Regions from separate parts of the Homo sapiens genome. Here region 1 is linked to region 2. A link means that fine-mapping ties the variant in region 2 to the expression of a gene that starts in the linked region. Tissue or cell type: whole blood. Region 2 holds a variant in brackets; the other region holds the start of a gene. All regions are shown on one strand. Distances are between the middles of the regions.

The links. PIP is the estimated chance that this variant, and not a neighbour inherited with it, causes the effect.
Region 1: it holds the start of LAPTM5, and the variant in region 2 is fine-mapped to the expression of LAPTM5 in whole blood (TOPMed, PIP above 0.99).

The regions. Positions count from the first base shown.
Region 1 is chr1:30,754,423-30,762,749 of GRCh38, forward strand. LAPTM5 (lysosomal protein transmembrane 5) reads right to left here and starts at 3,352. Exons shown (of 8, transcript NM_006762.3): 1 at 3,237-3,352. The coding sequence starts at 3,323. RefSeq lists enhancers at 623-972, 1,444-1,493, 2,159-2,955, 3,084-3,363, 4,432-4,501.
Region 2 is chr1:30,729,514-30,737,840 of GRCh38, forward strand. LAPTM5 (lysosomal protein transmembrane 5) reads right to left here. Exons shown (of 8, transcript NM_006762.3): 6 at 8,091-8,186; 7 at 5,660-5,752; 8 at 2,956-4,404. The coding sequence ends at 4,315. Among named protein-coding and RNA genes, the nearest start is that of MIR4420, 5.6 kb to the right of the region's middle. RefSeq lists enhancers at 700-829, 980-1,089, 2,759-3,264, 3,265-3,770, 3,811-4,312. The variant C/T (reference allele first, on the strand shown) is at 4,277.

The DNA.
Region 1 (8,327 bases), 25 kb after region 2:
CTACTCAGGAAGCTGAGGTGGGAGGATCTCTTGAACCCAGGAGTTCAAGGCTGCAGTGAGCTGTGATGGCACCACTGCATTCCAGCCTGGGTGACAGAGCAAGACCCCATCTCTTAAAAACAAAAACAAAACAAAACAAATCAAACCACAAAAGATGGGCAAGTTACTGAACTTTGAAAAAAAGAATAGATTTTTTAAAAAAAGAAAGAAAGTTTGCTGGGTTCCCAAAGTGTGCAAGTTTGGGTGACCCAGAGAATCCTCTACACAAACCCACTGACATCCTGAGGAAGATGCCCGAGCCCAAAGCTACGGACCAGGCTTCCCTCATGTAATAACGCCCTCATGACTCAATAGAGCGTGGCACTGTCTCAGGATGGCAAGGTCTCAATTTAACCCTCCCTAGAGGGGCCAAGTCCACAAATAGCTCATGATGTGCAGAGTCGTCACCCATGGCTGGGTCCAGATGACAGCCAGCATGGGCTATTGACACATCTGGACCACAGCTTCTCTTTTTCCATCCAGATGCTCAAGGTCCTATCAGCACACCTGTTGCCAGCTAGCCTATGGGAAAGCCCCCAGGCCCTGCCCTTTCTGGGAAGGAGAGAGGACTCTTTCGGGGTGCAGGAAGATAACCCCCCACTGGAGTCAACTGAGGACCACAGCCTGGAGACAACCTGGGCCGAGCGCACAGCTTCCAGGACACCCCTCTGCTCTTTTGCTTGCTCCTGCTCTAGAACGTCTCATCACTCATAGGCATTGGTTCTCAACTGGGAGAGATTGGGCCCCATAACTAGAGACATTTTTGGTTATCACAAGTGGCAGGGTAGGGAGATGGGCAGTGCTGCTAGTATCTAGTAGGTAGAGACCATGGATGCTGCTGAACTTCCTCTAACGCACAATTCACTCCCCCAAGATGAAGAATTATCCAGCCCAAAATATCAATGGTGCACTGCAGAGAAGATCCAACTTCTTAGCTTGTCACTCAAAACCTTTATCACCTCCTCCCCAAACTCCAGGTTTGTCTCTATTGTGTCCCTGTAGAAGCCGAACACATACGCCATTGCTCACCTGTTTCTCCTCACCTTCCATACTGCCCACAACCAAACTCTCCCTCCTGCCAATGGCACCACCTCCAAGAAGTCTTCCATGATTGCTAGGGCCCACACATTCTTCAGCTCTGTGAGCAGGGACCGTATATCACACCACCATTTACAGGTGAGGACATCGGATGGCACGATCAACAAGAAACCTTAACAGCCCCACAGTCCCGGGTTTGCAGGGCAGCCTCTGGGCCCACACAACCTGCAAATGGATTTGACTTGGCCTGCACTGAGATTTTTTTCTACCATGCATCAATCACTAGCATTGAAACATCAGAAGATGTGACACAAAAGCCTGCTCCCTATTCTCTAAACATCAGAAGAGCGGCCACCAGGGCCCACAATCCTTCGTGGCAACAACAAGCAAAAACAGAGAACAGCTGCAGGGTGGGCCAAGCAAGGGCTCCCGGGGTCACCGCAGGCCCCATCTGCCCCCTGCTGTCACTCACATGGCCTGCCCAGACCCTAGAGGCATCAGAGTTGGAGACCTCTGAGCCAGTCAACATCACCTTACCCCTGACTTTATAAAAGGGAAACTGAGGCCCAGAGAGAGGCTTGTCTGAGCCCATACAGCCAGTTAGTGGCAGGGCTGGGGTGAGGACCCAGGGACTTGCTACCTGTGAGGCGCCCCTGCATGCCACACTGTCCTTCTAAGAATGTGCATAGTCTCAGAGCTTGAAGGCCTAAAATACAGGGTACAGGGACACTCAAAGAGTGATTTGCTTCTCTCAGCTCTTGCATTGGCAGGAGCTCGGAAGGACAACCTCTGAGTTCCTCCTCCCAAAACTAGAGTCCTTGAATCTGACAACTTGACTCCAAGGATGCTGACAGCAGGTGCCATGTCTGATGCACAACGAATAATAAAGCACTCACCTGTGCGTCAGGCGTGGTTCTGCATGCTTTGTATGTATCAACTCCCTGAGCCTCACAACAAACCCTATCAGATGGGTATGATAATTCACATCCCCATTTTTTTAAATGAGAAAACTGAGGCTCAGAGAGGTTAAGTAAATTGCCCAAGGCTGCAGAGCTGGGAAGCAGGGAAGCCAGGATTTGCATGCAGGAGTCTGCATCCAGAGGCCGTGGGCTAACCACTGAACAGCATCGCCCCCCTGAAGGCTGGGCTCTTGCCACAGCTCTGCCTGCCCTGCCTGTGACAGGAAGCAGACGCAGGCAGGTCTGAGTTTGCAGCAACCCACCGCAGCATGTGGATCTAGGCTAATTTTGAGGAAGCCCTTCCAGACTCATGAGAAAACTGTTAACCACAGGCCCTGAGTCACCCCAGGAGGAAGTCGCTTGGGTCTAGGGGAGATGAGTGTGGCCAGGAGTTTGGGAGTAGGGTGGGTCTAGGCAGGACAGTACAAGGACACTGACCCTCAGCCACCCCAGGCAGAGGGGCAGCCTTGGCCCCCGGGCACTGTGACTTGCCCAAGACCACACTGTGAGTCACCAGGAAAGGAGGAACCAGTGACAGCCGTGACTTCACAAGTTGCCCAACAAGAGCTTGGGCCGGACAAGTTACCCTAATGATTAGCACAGGTCTCAAGTTCTCTTTGGTGGGCAGAAGGCCGTGGTTTGACTGAGCTGGAAGCTGAGAGGACACGGCCCCTGCCTCCCCACTGGAGGCACAAAGGGGAGATCCCCACTTCTCATCCCCTCGAGTGGCCCAGGCTCCCTCCAGGCCCCAGGGGAAGAATCGGGGCTGTGTCTGCGGCCGACCTCACATCCCGGTCAAACAATCCCAGCCCACGTTCCTCCCAAGATCCCTGCCTTCCAAAGCACTTTCACATCTGCTGTTGGCTTTGCACACAAATAACCTTCCGGCTGCTGCTGTGCCCCATCTCACAGAGGCAGAAACGGAGCCAGCCTCGGAGTGAACGTCAGTTACATTTGCCTGGAAAGTGGATTCCAGCTCCCTTACTCCTCACTCTTGCGGCATCTCCCCAGGGTACCCCCAGCCATTTGACAGAGAAGGAAACTGAGGCCCAGAGCAGGACAGGGATTTGCCCAGGGTCCCCCAGAGAGGTGGAGAGCAGGAGTTCTTTCATTTGTGGGGCTCCGTAGATGACGGGTCACCGCAGACATTCACACTCACACAAGCACGCACGCACACACACCCGGGGCCCGCACACTCACCACATGGTAGATGGCCAGGGCGGTGGTTGCGATGCGGACATTGAAGCAGCAGCAGGTCTGGCGGACAGTGGACAAGCGGGGGTCCATGGTGCTGCCGTCCCCTCCTCTGAGACACTGAAGGGGAAAGAGCCTGGTGCCTGGAGCAGGGCAGAGAAGGGGAAGCTGCTGGCTGCCCTCCTCACTTCCTTCCTGCCCCTTAGACAGGCAGGGACAAGGTCGTCACAGCTGGGGCGGGGCAGCTGGGGAGGGGGAGTGGGGACAGGGCAGCAGCCTGCCTCAGAGCACCCCACTGCCCTCTGCCATTCCCAGGAGGGGGTTCCAGAGAGGACAGACCCTAACACGGTCATCATGCCCTTCTCTGCACCAGGGCCAGGGTTCCACCGTTTCACACAGCTTGCTTACTAGAAGAACACTACCAACTTTGGAAGCCAGGACTGTTACCAAGCCCATTTCCAGATGAGGAAACAGCTGTCCAGAGAGGTCAAGGCACTTGCCCCAAATCACACAGTAGTTAGCACTGGTGGCAGAATTCAAACCCAGATCTGTCTGGCTGCAAAAATAGCTATTGTCTAGGAGGCATTTCCTGCCTCTTCCAGGCATGCTCCTGGATTCACTCCTTTCATCCTCACCTCAATCCTTTGAGAGAGGTACTATTATGATCCCCATTTTACAGATGAAGAAACTGAGGCACAGAGAGGGGGAATGATTCGTGCAAGGTCACACAGCTAGTCAATGAAGGTGCAAGGATTTTAACTGAGGCTGACTGGTGCTAGAAGCCTCCCTGGAGCTGGTGTTCTCTCCCACTTCCTCACCCTGAGCCGCAGGGAGAAGCTTGTTCTTCCTAAGCTACGAAGAGGCGTGCAGGGCTCCAGACAAGGACGGAAGAATAACCAGGAAGCAAACCCATCAACTGTGCGCCAGGCCCTGGGCTAGGCTTCTCTTCTAGGTGGGTCAATAACTCTTCACAGCAATCTGTGAGACCCGAACCTCACTTTCAGGGCCTCAAGACCCAATCCCCATACTCACACAAAATCAGGGATTGCTTTTCCCCCTTGATCTTGCAAAAAGTTGGAATTAATAAGCCACAACTCTTAGGCAAGCTACCCTGGAATCTCTACTCCCTCCTCAGATGATAAATTATCCATATTGCAATAAAGAAAGGGAATAGGAAGTACATGCAACATTTCTGGAAGAAGCCCTGCTTCATTCCACAGCTGAGCCCCTTTGCAATGCCAAGCTTCTAGTGCAGAGCAGACAGGAACTGCCATGAAGCCCTGCCCTCCCAGGAGATCATGGAGTTAGGATTGGACACTGCTGCAGCCCATCATTTCTGCCCCAGGAGAGGTTATAGAAAGTCCCTAAGCTCCTCCCACTTGGCAGGAGTTGCTCTGTTAGACCCACAAAACTTGATTGGTGGACTTGATCAATCCATTCTCCATGTGCCAATGAGACCAAGGGGACTCTGCAAGCTTTGGGCTCCTGGGAGGCCTGGCCTATCCCTTCCCAACTTCATTTTCAAGGCTGTTCCTGTTCCTTCATAAGCCTTGCTGAGGCCTGACATCATAGAAAGGTGACACAGTGCAGTGGTTAAGAACTTTGGCTCCACAGGCCCATGGCCTGGGATCTTCTGGCTGGGTAGGCAGAAAACCAAGAGAAGTCCTCCTTTGTCTAAGAGTAGCAAGACCAGAGGAACTGGAGATCAGGAAACCAGGGGCCAGGAGGGCCCTGAGGCCATGCTGGGGAGTCTGCATTTGATTGTGCACAGAAGCCATTTGACGATTTCCTACCATAATAAATGATAGCCATTCATAACATTGTGATTTGGTGAAACCAGGACAGGTGCAAAGCCAACTCCCAAAGAGAGGGATGAAACACACTGACAGCATGTGGAATAATTGTACATGGTCTATGGGTAAACATTTCTCATTTTTTATGGTGATAAATTCATTTTAATGTGCATTATAAAAATATACATAACTAGTCCATGAATCCTGTGATTTTCCATTTATAGGAGTAATATAAAGTCTCATTTTAAAAGAAATGCATTTAAATAAAAAAGGCAGTAAGTCAATTTAAAGAACATATTAAGGAAGCCACAGCCTAGGAGGACGCAGATGTGGCAGACAGCCCTGGAGGTGGAGTAGGTGGCATCCGTTTGGGAATCCTGGGGCATGGGGAATCCCAGCTCCCCACTTAGTAGCTGTGTGGTGTCAGACAAGGCACTTGATCTCTCTGAGCTGTTGTTTTCACCTCTGCAAAACGGCGGGGCGGTTGGGGGGAACAGAAATTTGCCTGGCAGGGCTGCGGTGAAGGTGAAATGAGGTCACGTGAATGCATCTGTTTGTTTTCTCCCTTCCAGCCCGTCCCTGCTCCCCGATCTCACCCGTACTCAGGCTGCTAGGAGGAGGCAGAGCTGGGATTGAACCCCTGATCTGTCTGATTCTGAGTCCCCTCGGGCACTACCTCCCTCGCAGAAGCAGGAGTTCTGATGCAGTCATTTGTCTCTCACCGGGTCACCAGGCTCCAGCACACACTGGCCCCTTGGCAGGCACCTCAGTCACTCCCTGTGGAGTACAAGCCTGAATCACTTTATTGTCATTCCCAACAAACCCCCTGTGGAGAGGACGGCTATTATCCCAAAGGTCAGACCCTTTGGCCAAAGCCACTGTGATAGGCAGAATAGTGCCTCTCACCCCCCAAAAAAAATCCACCCTAATCTCTGGAACCTGTGCGTACATGGCCTTACATGGCAAAGAAACTTCACAGGCGCCATGAAATTCAGGATCTTGAGGTGGGTGGGGAGATTATCCTGCATTATCTGGATGGCCCTGAGGTCATCAAATGGGTCCCCATAAGTGAAGGAAGATCAGAGTCAGAGAGGGAGTGGAAGATGCCACACTCCTGGCTCTGCAGTTGGAGGAAGAACCATGAGCCAAGGAGTGCAGGCGGCATCCAGAAACTGGAAAAGGCAAGGAAATGGCTTCTCCTCTAGAGGCTCGAAAGGGAATCACTTTCATTTTAGCTCAGCGAGGCGCATTCCTGACTTCTGGCCTCCAGAACTGTAAGACAATAAATGTCTGTTGTAGTCACTGTGTTTCTGGTCTTTTATTATAGCGGCCGCAGGGAACAAATACAGCTGCTCAGTGGAAGCAACAGCTGAGCCTGGGGCCCCGTCGCTGGAGCCCAACACACTCCACCGAGACCACAGTCCCCATCTGCACAAGTGCAGCCCTTACTTCCTTGCTGTGTGACCCCAGCCAAGTCGTGAACTTCCCTGAGCCTCCGCTTCCTCCTGCGCCAAGCGGGGATAATGATAATGCCCATCTCGTTGTCTGTACATGCAGGTGGCAACACCACATAAGCTCACTATTTATATTCTGCTGTTTTCCGTTACGAATGATAAGTTTTGAGCTTCTTCAAGTTGCTTTTCATACCTTCTTTGTGGAGTGGTAGAACCCTTGAAAACTTCAGACCCTCTGAATTCATCAAGATAAGGACAAGGAAATGTTCCATGCCACCGCAGCCACGGCAGAGCAGATACAAATCTGCTTGTCAAACTGCCCTTGTCAATGTTATTTCTGACAAAGGAATCTTCTAAGACCCCCTGACTTCAGACATGGTTCCCAGATCCTAGAGAGTCATCTTTAATCCTGAAAAGGTCTGTAATTCTGGCTGGTTATCTGGCTTAATAATTTGCTGCCATGGTATATGAATATTTAAACAGACAGCTCTGTTTCCTCAAAGGCAGAATTAGTTGTAAGCTTTCTTTGTTAAGTCAGAAGAACATCACTGGAACTTCCCTCTTCACCCATAGGCCTGGAGGTAAAAATAAAACCCACGACTCTGCCAGCTTTTGTATTTAAACAAAGAGTTTGGGAGTCTTGTGTCCTTTCCATTAACCTAGATGAAGCACTTAGAAGGGGCTGGGTCACGGTAAGGACTGCACAGTGGGAAGCATTTTGATCACGATTGTCACTATGATTCTTCCTGTCCTTTAAACCCTTTCTCAGCTGAGCCTCCCCCAGCCCTAGCCAGCAGAGGAAGGCAGCAGAGAGGCACTGATCAGCTCCCGTAGACCCAAGGGGCCAGTGATCTGCTGCAAGACACACAGCTGGTCAGGAGCAGAGCCAGGACACAGGTCCTCCTTGGGGACAGCTTCGTGGGCGGCATGTGAGTGGTGGCAGCCAAGGTAGCTCCAGGGCTGTCTTCTCCCGAGGGGCTCCTGGGTGCCCCCTGCAGCTCACCCAGGCTGAAGGTCAGCTTCCTGCCAGACCACTGGCCTGTGATTCCCTTCTGGCTGCAAGCCCCACCTCACTTCTGCCTTTGAGGTTTGGGGCTGGAATGTGTAGGGCCAAAGCCAAAGGCCTGAAAAATGTGAGAAACGGCAGAGCATTCTCTCCTGTCTCCTGCCCCGAACCCAGCACGGTCACCAGGGGTCAGGGCCTACACGTGCAACCCACAGGGTCCCTCCCCTACTCCCCTGCCTGTGGAAGGGGCCCAGGCCTTGAAGTCAGCCTGGAGGGTCAGCCTGGCAAGGACAGCCCACAGGCCTGTGGCCTGGGGACAACCAGACCTTCCAATGACCAGCTGCTGAGTCCAGTGGGCAGGCAGGGGACCCCAACGGTCTGCCAGACACTCCAAGGAGGCCTCCCCTCAGCCAGGCAGTCCAGGGGTCCCTGGCTGCACCCAGGGGCACAATGACACCATATCCTAGTCTGCTGCTGCCACAGGCACTGCAGGCTGAAGGCTCCAGGGAGATGGGACCAGCAGGCAGAAGGAGCACTGGCTGCAAAGTCTGCATAGCCGAGCCAGCAGCCTCCTGCTGAATAACAGCTCTGGGCACACCCCAGGACGGAGCATTTTAGATCATGGGTGCAGCCGTACTATCCATGGGGAGCTGGAAAACCCGGCTCCCTCCTGGCCCTGGTCTCCAACCAGCCTCTGCCTCACTCTGAGCTGTAGAGTGGGGATTGTCATAGCGCATCCAGTGTGCTGCTGCAAGGACTAGGTAATTCCCTCCTAAGCACCAGCCTCTGCCAGAGCCCCCTCCTCCCTGCTGCTGACCTCATCCTCAGGAAAAACCTCAGAGAT
Region 2 (8,327 bases):
GTGTGCTTTCATCTGCCGGCCTGTCTGGGGAGGCCACGGAGCAGCAGCACATCCTTCTGATGGGTTAACACCTGGGTGATACCAGCCCAACCTGATATCCCACCCACATGTCCAAAGATAGCACTCACATCTCAACCTGCCTCCCTCCTCGCTCTCCTAAACTCCAGACCTAGAGACCCAGCTGCTTCCTGAGCACCTCCCATTATATGTCCCCCAAGGAAGCGCAAATCTAGCCCCACCAAAACGCGATGCATCCTTTGCCATCCCCCGTTTCGCATCCTCTGCTCAGAGCTGGGCACCACCATCCGAGGGTCCGCAACATCCAAAAGCTCCCTGCTGCCTCTGAGGCCTCCTGCTTCTGCCAGGGCCCTCCCAAGAGGGCTCAGAGCCTGGAATAGGAATTAAATGAGGGCCTTGTGAGGTAGAAATTCCCAGAGGAAGGGCGAGGTTACCCAGAAAGGTCTAGAGAGACAAGCTCAGGTCCATTTGGGTGGACTGAAGTCCAAGCCCAGGTCTGCCCCTTGGCCAATGCGTGACTGTGGGCAGAGGCAGCCCCTCCCTGAACCTCAGGAATGATCACCACCCAGCACCTGCTGCGTGAGGCCACTGGGAGCTTTGTGGAGCCAGCACACTGAAGGGCCCACTCAATTACGGGGACCCTTCCTGCTACCATCACAGCTCCCGAGAAACCTGAAGTTGCCCCGCTTAGCACCCCAGGTTTAATTTTACCAGCTCTTTTTTCCCTCCAAGAGACAACCACTCCAGGCTGCCCTCACCTGCCCAGGCCTGGAAGCAGCCCCCTCTGTCCTGGGGCCGGCTCCTTTCCAGGCATGAAGCTCAAACAGGCGCTGTCAGTGGGTCCAAACCATCGCAGCCCCGTCAAAGGACCCCTGTGTGAGCCTCAAACGGGGCATTGATAGGGCCTCAGTGAGGGCTGCCCAGGCGATCGTGGGCTCGCTTGGCTTGGCTAGCCATGCGGACTTCCCCAAACCCAGCTATTTCCTGTCCCTCGGGTGGCCCCCTCCCAGCTGCCTGGCCACAGGGCACAATCCCACTACACAGCTCAGCCTGTTCTTCGGCTCCAGGCCAGAGGTGGGAGTCGGGGAAGGCGGGAAGGACGGGAGAGTCGCGCCGGGAAGTTCAGGGCCTCCTGGTCCTTGTGACACACGCAGCCATGGCCCTTCAATCTCCTTGTGATAGGATGCAAGGCTGGGCCAATGTCTCTCCTCCCGTGACCTCTGCTCCCAATCCACACTTGCCGGGGCTTCTCAGCGGGCCCTCTTCCCATGGGTCTTTGCAAGAAGCAACAACTGACACAGACTGGGCCCCAGCCCGTCTAAAAGCCTCCACTCGGAGTAGAAAAAAAAGGTGCTTGGTCTCATCTCTGACCACTGTGTGGCCTCAGGAAAGTCACTTGATGTCTCTGGGCCTCTGCCCTCAAGTGTGAACAGGAGCTCGCTTTCCATTTCTGTGAATTACACTGCACCAACTGCTTGGGGGTCTGATAAGGAGCAAATAACATCCATGAAGAAATCTGCCATTCCACAAAAAAACTGACACCACCAGAAGGTTGACAATGCCTCTCAAACTCATCCCCGTCCCTGCCGCCCCATAGGATGACTTCCCCAGCCTTTGTAGGGGTCCCTGCATTTGGGCTCTTCCTTCCTAAAACCCAAACCTTGTAACTCCTTGGCCCAAAATCCTTCAAAGACACCTGTCTCAGGATTAGTCCATGTTCCTCGGTGTGACATTCAAGGCTCTGAGGGCTCTTTTGGTATTGGTGACAGATCCCAATTCAAACAGCCCTGGTCTCTTTATTAACTTTACTTTCAGGTAAGTCCTCAACAGCTCAGCCACACCGGGGAGAAAAGATAAGAGATGGAGAAACAGAGAGACATTATTAAAGAGTTGTAGTCCTGGATCCTGCCATACCTGAAGCCAAAAATCCCTGGATTTTTTATTTGTATGAGAGCCAAGAAACATCGTGAACCACCTTCTGGTTTCTCATAATAAACTTGGCTCATAAGGCTTCTGTTACTTGCAACCATGTCCTTCCTGTAAATTCCCTTCTTGGCTGAACTTAGCCAGGGTGAGCTTGCACCTAAAGAGCCCCACTGTGTGCAAACACTCTTCCTGACCCAGCCCCACAGCGGGCCGACCTCTTCTCCCTCCCCTCCCCACTTGCAGCCACGCTGAGCAGCTCGCCCCAGCTCCTCTCCCCAATGCCATAGAGTCTTTGCGTGTCCTGCTACCTAGACCTAGAGCACCCTTCCCATTCTGCTTACTGCTGCCTTCTCATCCTTCAGACTCCACTTGGTGACAGCCTCCAAGAGGCTTTCTCTGGCCCTCAGGCCACGTCTGAGGTCCCCTAGGCTTTCCCTATCGTGGCAGCCCTTTTGCAGATCTGTCCCTCCTACCGCAGACTGGGGGGAACTGGAGGCGAGTCTCATCTGTTGAGGTCTTCCCCAGTGTCCAGAGCAGGACCCAGCCCCAGGGGAGTGGAGTGCACGCCTGATTAGGGAGACATCAGGGTGCATCATCTTGGGCTGTGGTTCATGATCAGACAGCATTGGGTCAGGACCACCCCTCGCTCAGCATGGCCCATGGGAGGAGTTTCTGGATGGAGCAACTAGGTATGTGTGAGTGTTTACATGGGTGTGTGGGGGTGGGCGTGTGTGGAGGGGTGTGGGGGGTGTGAGTGTGTGGGTATATGGGGGGTGTGTGGGTGTGTAGGCGGTGGGAGTGAGTGTGTGGAGGGGTGTGGGGAGGGTGTGAGTGTGTGGGTATGTGGGGGGAGTGTGGGTGTTTGGGTGTATTTGTGGGTGTGTGGGGGTGGGTGTGAGTGTGTGGAGGGGTGTGGGTGTAGGGGGTGTGGGTGAGTCCTGGGGTGATGGAGGTAGAAGGCTGGTCTCCACCCTCCCTACACTGTATTTCCAGAAACACATCAGCCAGACAGAAGCTTGTTGCTGCTTTATTGAAACTTCCTCCCTGTCGCACACAAAGCAATTACACAAGGGGGTATTGCCAGGGAGCTCTTGCAGAGCCTTCTCCCTCTGTACCCCCCGACAGTCCCCAGAGACCCTGCCTCCGTGGCCTCCACCTCTGGGTCAGCTCCCTGGAGGACCCCGACACACAGGGAAGCAGGCACAGGAGGGCTGTTGGGGCCAAACCTCCCCAGCTGCCACAACCGCCATGACCCCAGTGGCAGGGTCAGTGCCCACAAGGGGGTTGCCTGCTTTGACTGAACTAACCTGTGGGTTTAGTCCAACGAACAGATGTGCCTGATTTCAGGGCTGAATTTTTGCTTGACCACAAGCCTCGGGCAGAACAGATTCGCCTATGACTGAATCGACTGAATGGATGGCCAGCGACAGCCTGGCCTGGGAATGGACTGGCAGCTCATCACTAAAATGACTCCTTTCATGGAATCCACTGTTATGCAGCCACACTGACCACAGAGCAACTGAATAGGTGAGCATTGGATTGTTGATGACAACTCTTCAGCAGAACAATTGTGTGTTTGAAGGGACTGTTTTATGATGAAATAACTGTTATTTCCTGGAGCTAATTGTTGAATGACAGTTTGTCAACTGTTTAAATGAATTTCATTTGAATTAACAATTATACAGCCACTCAGAGGTCCTACATTCGCCAGAGTTGGCATCCAGTTGATGGGTTCATTTGAATTAAATGGTTTGGAGGCTAACGTGATTTTTTAAATTGAATTTCATCACTATTCTGTGTATTCTATTTATCACTATTCTAAATGACTCATGGTTGGCTAATTGATTATCATGTAAGCAAGCTATTTGAAGAAATTGATTACATATATTTATATATAGGGGGTAACTAATTAATGATTACTTGATTAAATTGCTATGTGAACTGACAACTATTTATAAATCAATGCAATAGACTGTTGTTTGACCAAATTATTTTACTGAACTGACAAGTGGGTTTTTGATTTGTCAGTTGCTTGGCTGAACTGATCAAGTCGATAGTTGCTTGACAAACTCACCAACTTTAGAATGGCCAATCGTCTAAACAAGTGTCAGAGCTGATTGAAATAAACCAAGCATTGTTGGGCTGAATTATGGAGAGACCCGAGGAGTGACTCAGCCTAAAGCGTTGACCCAGTTGTGAGCAGCTCACAGGCCCTGCAGGAGGAGCAGGCCAGCGAGGGAGACACAAGCAGATTGTCCTGCCAGGGAGGGGCGGGAGGGCCCACCCAGGCCACAGGGGCCACCAAAGCAAAAAAGCAGATTATGAGGCAGCT[C/T]CACCCCTCCCAGCACTGGGGCTGGGGCCTGGCGAGGGTCACACCTCTGAGTATGGGGGTGGTGCTGGGCCCCCCTCTGGGGTCTTCGATGGCAAAGACAGGGCTTCCTCGTAGGACGGCAGGACCACCTGGGAGAGACAGAGAGATGAGGGCTGAGTATGGTCAAGAATGACCTGCAATTCCAACCTGGGGTCATGGGACCCAAACCCCCACCTCTGGCAAAATGATGATGATAATGACTGGCAGGTCTTGGATATTTGCTATGTGCTAGACATTGCCTGCATGAGATAGGTGCAGTTCCCAGCCCTGTAGTGGACATATTTGCCTTTGCCTATTCAGCATCAAGTCCCCCTTATTTTGAAAACAGTGCACCATTTTCCTTGGGAAAACATTCTCAGTCCATATACCTTCAGAAGAACTGGTCCCATCCCTCAGATCCAGCGAGGTGGCTGGACTTGGCCACTCAAAGTAGAATTCCATCCCCCTGGCTATAGTCCTTGGTTTGGGGATAGGCACGTGGCCCAAGTTGGTCCAATCAGACATACTCCTGGGACCTTCTTTTTCTGTTGGGATTTCTGAGAGGGTGGGATATCTGCCTAGGGGTTTTGGCAGCCTTTTTGCCACCACAAGGGATGGGCTTCCGGAAAATGAAGCCAACATCAAGGAAAGTAGAGTCAAGAGTTGGAGAGGACGAGATCATATCCTGATGTCAGGACTCAGCCAGGCCCAAGCCAGACCTACATTTGGCTGCTAAGTTCTGTGAGCTAGTAAATTCCTGAAGTCAGATTGAGTTGGGTTTCTGCCACTTGCAACCAAAAGTGTCTTAGCTAATACAATCTCCACCTTACAGGTGAGGAAAGTAAGTTACCAGGAATTTAAACCGTCACTTTCCAATAAGCTGCTTCTAAGCACACCTCATCCTCTCTTCCCGGAAAGCCTCCTTCTGCTTTCCCAGCTATCTCATATCCATTGACCCTCCAAGACCAGTTAACTGTCACCTCCTCCAGGAAGGCTTCCCTGATACCTGAGAAGAGGCCAGGTCCTTCCTCTGTGCTTATTGTCCCTGTGCTTCACACCAAGTTGTAATTGTATCTATGTGTCTGAACTGTACACTCCTCTAAGGCAGAGGTGGCATCTTAGTTTTCTCTGCGCCTCCTGGAATCGATATGAGACTAGCAAAGAGTGAGAGGCAGTAAATACTGAATAAATGAATGAGTGAGTGAATGAATCTTAGACTACCAGAACTGAAAGAGAACACATTTCTTCTGTTCCAACCCTCATCTTACAAATAGAGAAACCAAGGTCCAGAGAGGGAAGGAAACTTGACCCAAATGGCACAGGGAGTTAGTGACAGGGCTGGCACCCACCTGCAGCCACACTCACCTTCTGGAGCATCTTGGAGTTTCTCTTCTCCTCCACCGAGTTCATGCACTTGATCAATCTGTAGCACCGCCACACGCACTTGAACATGTAGACCTGGAAAAAGGCCCAGGTCAGGCTGTGCTTTGCTGAGCGTCCTTCTCACGCTCCAGCAGGCCTAGGACATATGCCAGGCAGGAGCCACCACTCTCTCCAGAAGCCAGCATCCAGCTGCTCCTGCTCGGACCTCTCATTCTGGTTGGGGGTTCCTCACCAGCCAGTCCAGAATATTCCAGGTATTGCCCTTTTCATTGCCCCACAGATACCACATAGCAAGGGGATTTGGGGGGCTTCTAGCCCACCCTCCAATTTCCCTGGCAATAGTCCCACAGCTCCTGCTTGACTGCCCACACTGCCTGGAAGCTCACTACCTCCTGAGACAGCCCTGCCCATCTCGAAACAGAGCTGATGGTGGGACATGTTTTCTTCAAAATTGCTTCCGATATGTTGTTTTCTGAAGCAGATTACAAAACAGCATGTGCAGTATTGGTCCATGTTTATAAAGGAGGAACAGTTAGTACATGTCCATCAGCTGATGCAAGTTAATGTAAGAATTGGGCAGAAGCTTTCCAGAGTGGGGCATACAATCCCAAGGGGCAAGCTCAAGAAACAACAGAAAACCCCCAGGATGCCCCCTGAGTAAGAGGAGAGGGTCCTGTACTGGAAGGTCTTGTTTGATGGATTCCCTGATGGGCACATAGGTGGGGCAAGGAGACATATGGAGGTACGGAGTGACAAAGAATGAAGCATGAAGGCCCAGGGAAAATCAAGTCGGTGGAGGGGGCCAGAGAGGCAGAATGAGGGTCAAAGAGGGAAGCCCCTCATTCTGGAGGATAAAAAACAGAAGGGGAGCTGGGGGACGGAGCTGTGTGCTGGGGTCTGCGGAGGGGTCCTGCAGTAGAGAGTGCCATGGAAAGCCCACACTGGCTTCCCCCATGAGGCCTTCAGGGGTGTTCTCACTGTACACTCACTAGTGCGTTTGTGCTAGGTCAGTCCTTGGAGAAGATGCTAAAAGGGGCAAGGTTCTGTTTCTAGGTTGGCATTAGGTGACAGCAGAGACTGCCCAGGGCCTCAGATGGAAGCAGGAGCTGGGGTCTGCAGATGCCCACCCACCACCACAGAAAGGCTGGGGGGAAATGCACCCAGTTGTCAGCAGTGATGCTCTCTGTGTGGGGTGTGGATGGTGGAGTGCTTGTCTTCTTTCTACTTATCTGTAGTTTTTTGGTTTTTGTTTTTTGTTTTAGAGAGAGATTCTCACTCTGTCGCCTAGGCTGGAGTGCAGTGGCATGATTATGGCCCACTGCAGCCTCAACCTCCCAGGCTCAAGCGATCCTCCCGCTTCAGCCTCCCTAGTAGCTGGGACTACAGGCACACGCCACCACATCCAACTTTTTTTTTTTTATGTTTTGTAGAGACAGAATCTTGCTATGTTGCCCAGGTTGGTTTTGAACTCCTGGCCTCAAGCAATCCTCCCAATTCAGCCTCCCAAAGCACTGGGATTACAGATGTGAGCCACCACATCCAGCTCATCTGTAGTTTTTAAATTTCTACTATGACCTATGTTACTTTTATAATCAGAAAAGAACACTTTTTAAAAGCCCTTCCTTCTGTGGTCATCAGCATCCCTGTGGCTTCAGGCCACAGGCCCCCATTGTGGCCTCTAGGATCCCACAAAATTCCCCACAAGAGTTCTTCAGGTATTAAGAAACAGCAGTCAGGTCCCCCTTGAGTCCTCTATTTTCCATGCTGAATAAACGCTCAGGTCTTTGTTGGGTTTTGTGGGGGTTTTTTGACTTCCTAAGATGGCAGCGTTTTCTTGTCTCTTCACGTTGCTGGTTGTACTGCTGTGAACACACTCCAGTGCTTCACCATCACTCAGACCTGGGACCTGAAGCTGGACCCTATCCTCTGGGCCTGACCACCCCAGAGAAGAATGAGACCATTCCCCTCCTGCCTTCTCATCACCAAACCTCTATTAACATAATCTCAGGTACATTTTGATGCCTGAATTACATAAAACTGTAACACAGGCAAAACAAGACTCCTGCCCCTGAGGCCCAGAGAGAAGTGACTTGCTGAAGACCAACCACGCAGCTAGTGACAGTGGGGCTTGGATTCAAACGCAGGCCAGTCCAAATCTAATTCCAGACAGCTGGAATTAGACATCTGAACGCAGGTGGCCTTTACGGATTCACATGCCCTAAATGGGCTGTCTCGGAGGATCCCAAGTAAAGTCAGAGGAGCTGGCATGGGAAAGCAAGAGAAAGGAGCTAAAAGCAGGAGAGGAGGCATGGAGGACACATGTCCCTGCCTTCTAACAGCTTGGCATGGGCAGGCCTGGGCCCAGCACAGCCTCACCACCCCTCCCAGAGCCGCAGGGCAGGGATCCACTCACCTTGAAGATAAGGACAGTGATGAAGGCGATGGAAAAGATGATCATCATCTTGATGAACTGGTTATGAGGCATATCCTCCTGGCTGGGGAGGTAATTCTGCAACAGATTTGGGGGCCACATCAATGTCTCTGGACATAAGGAATTCCAACAGCACCCACACATCCGGGAATAATGATCCCACCCTCCACACACACACGAGCACAGCGTGGCACAGCCGTCACCTTGGTCGACCGCCAC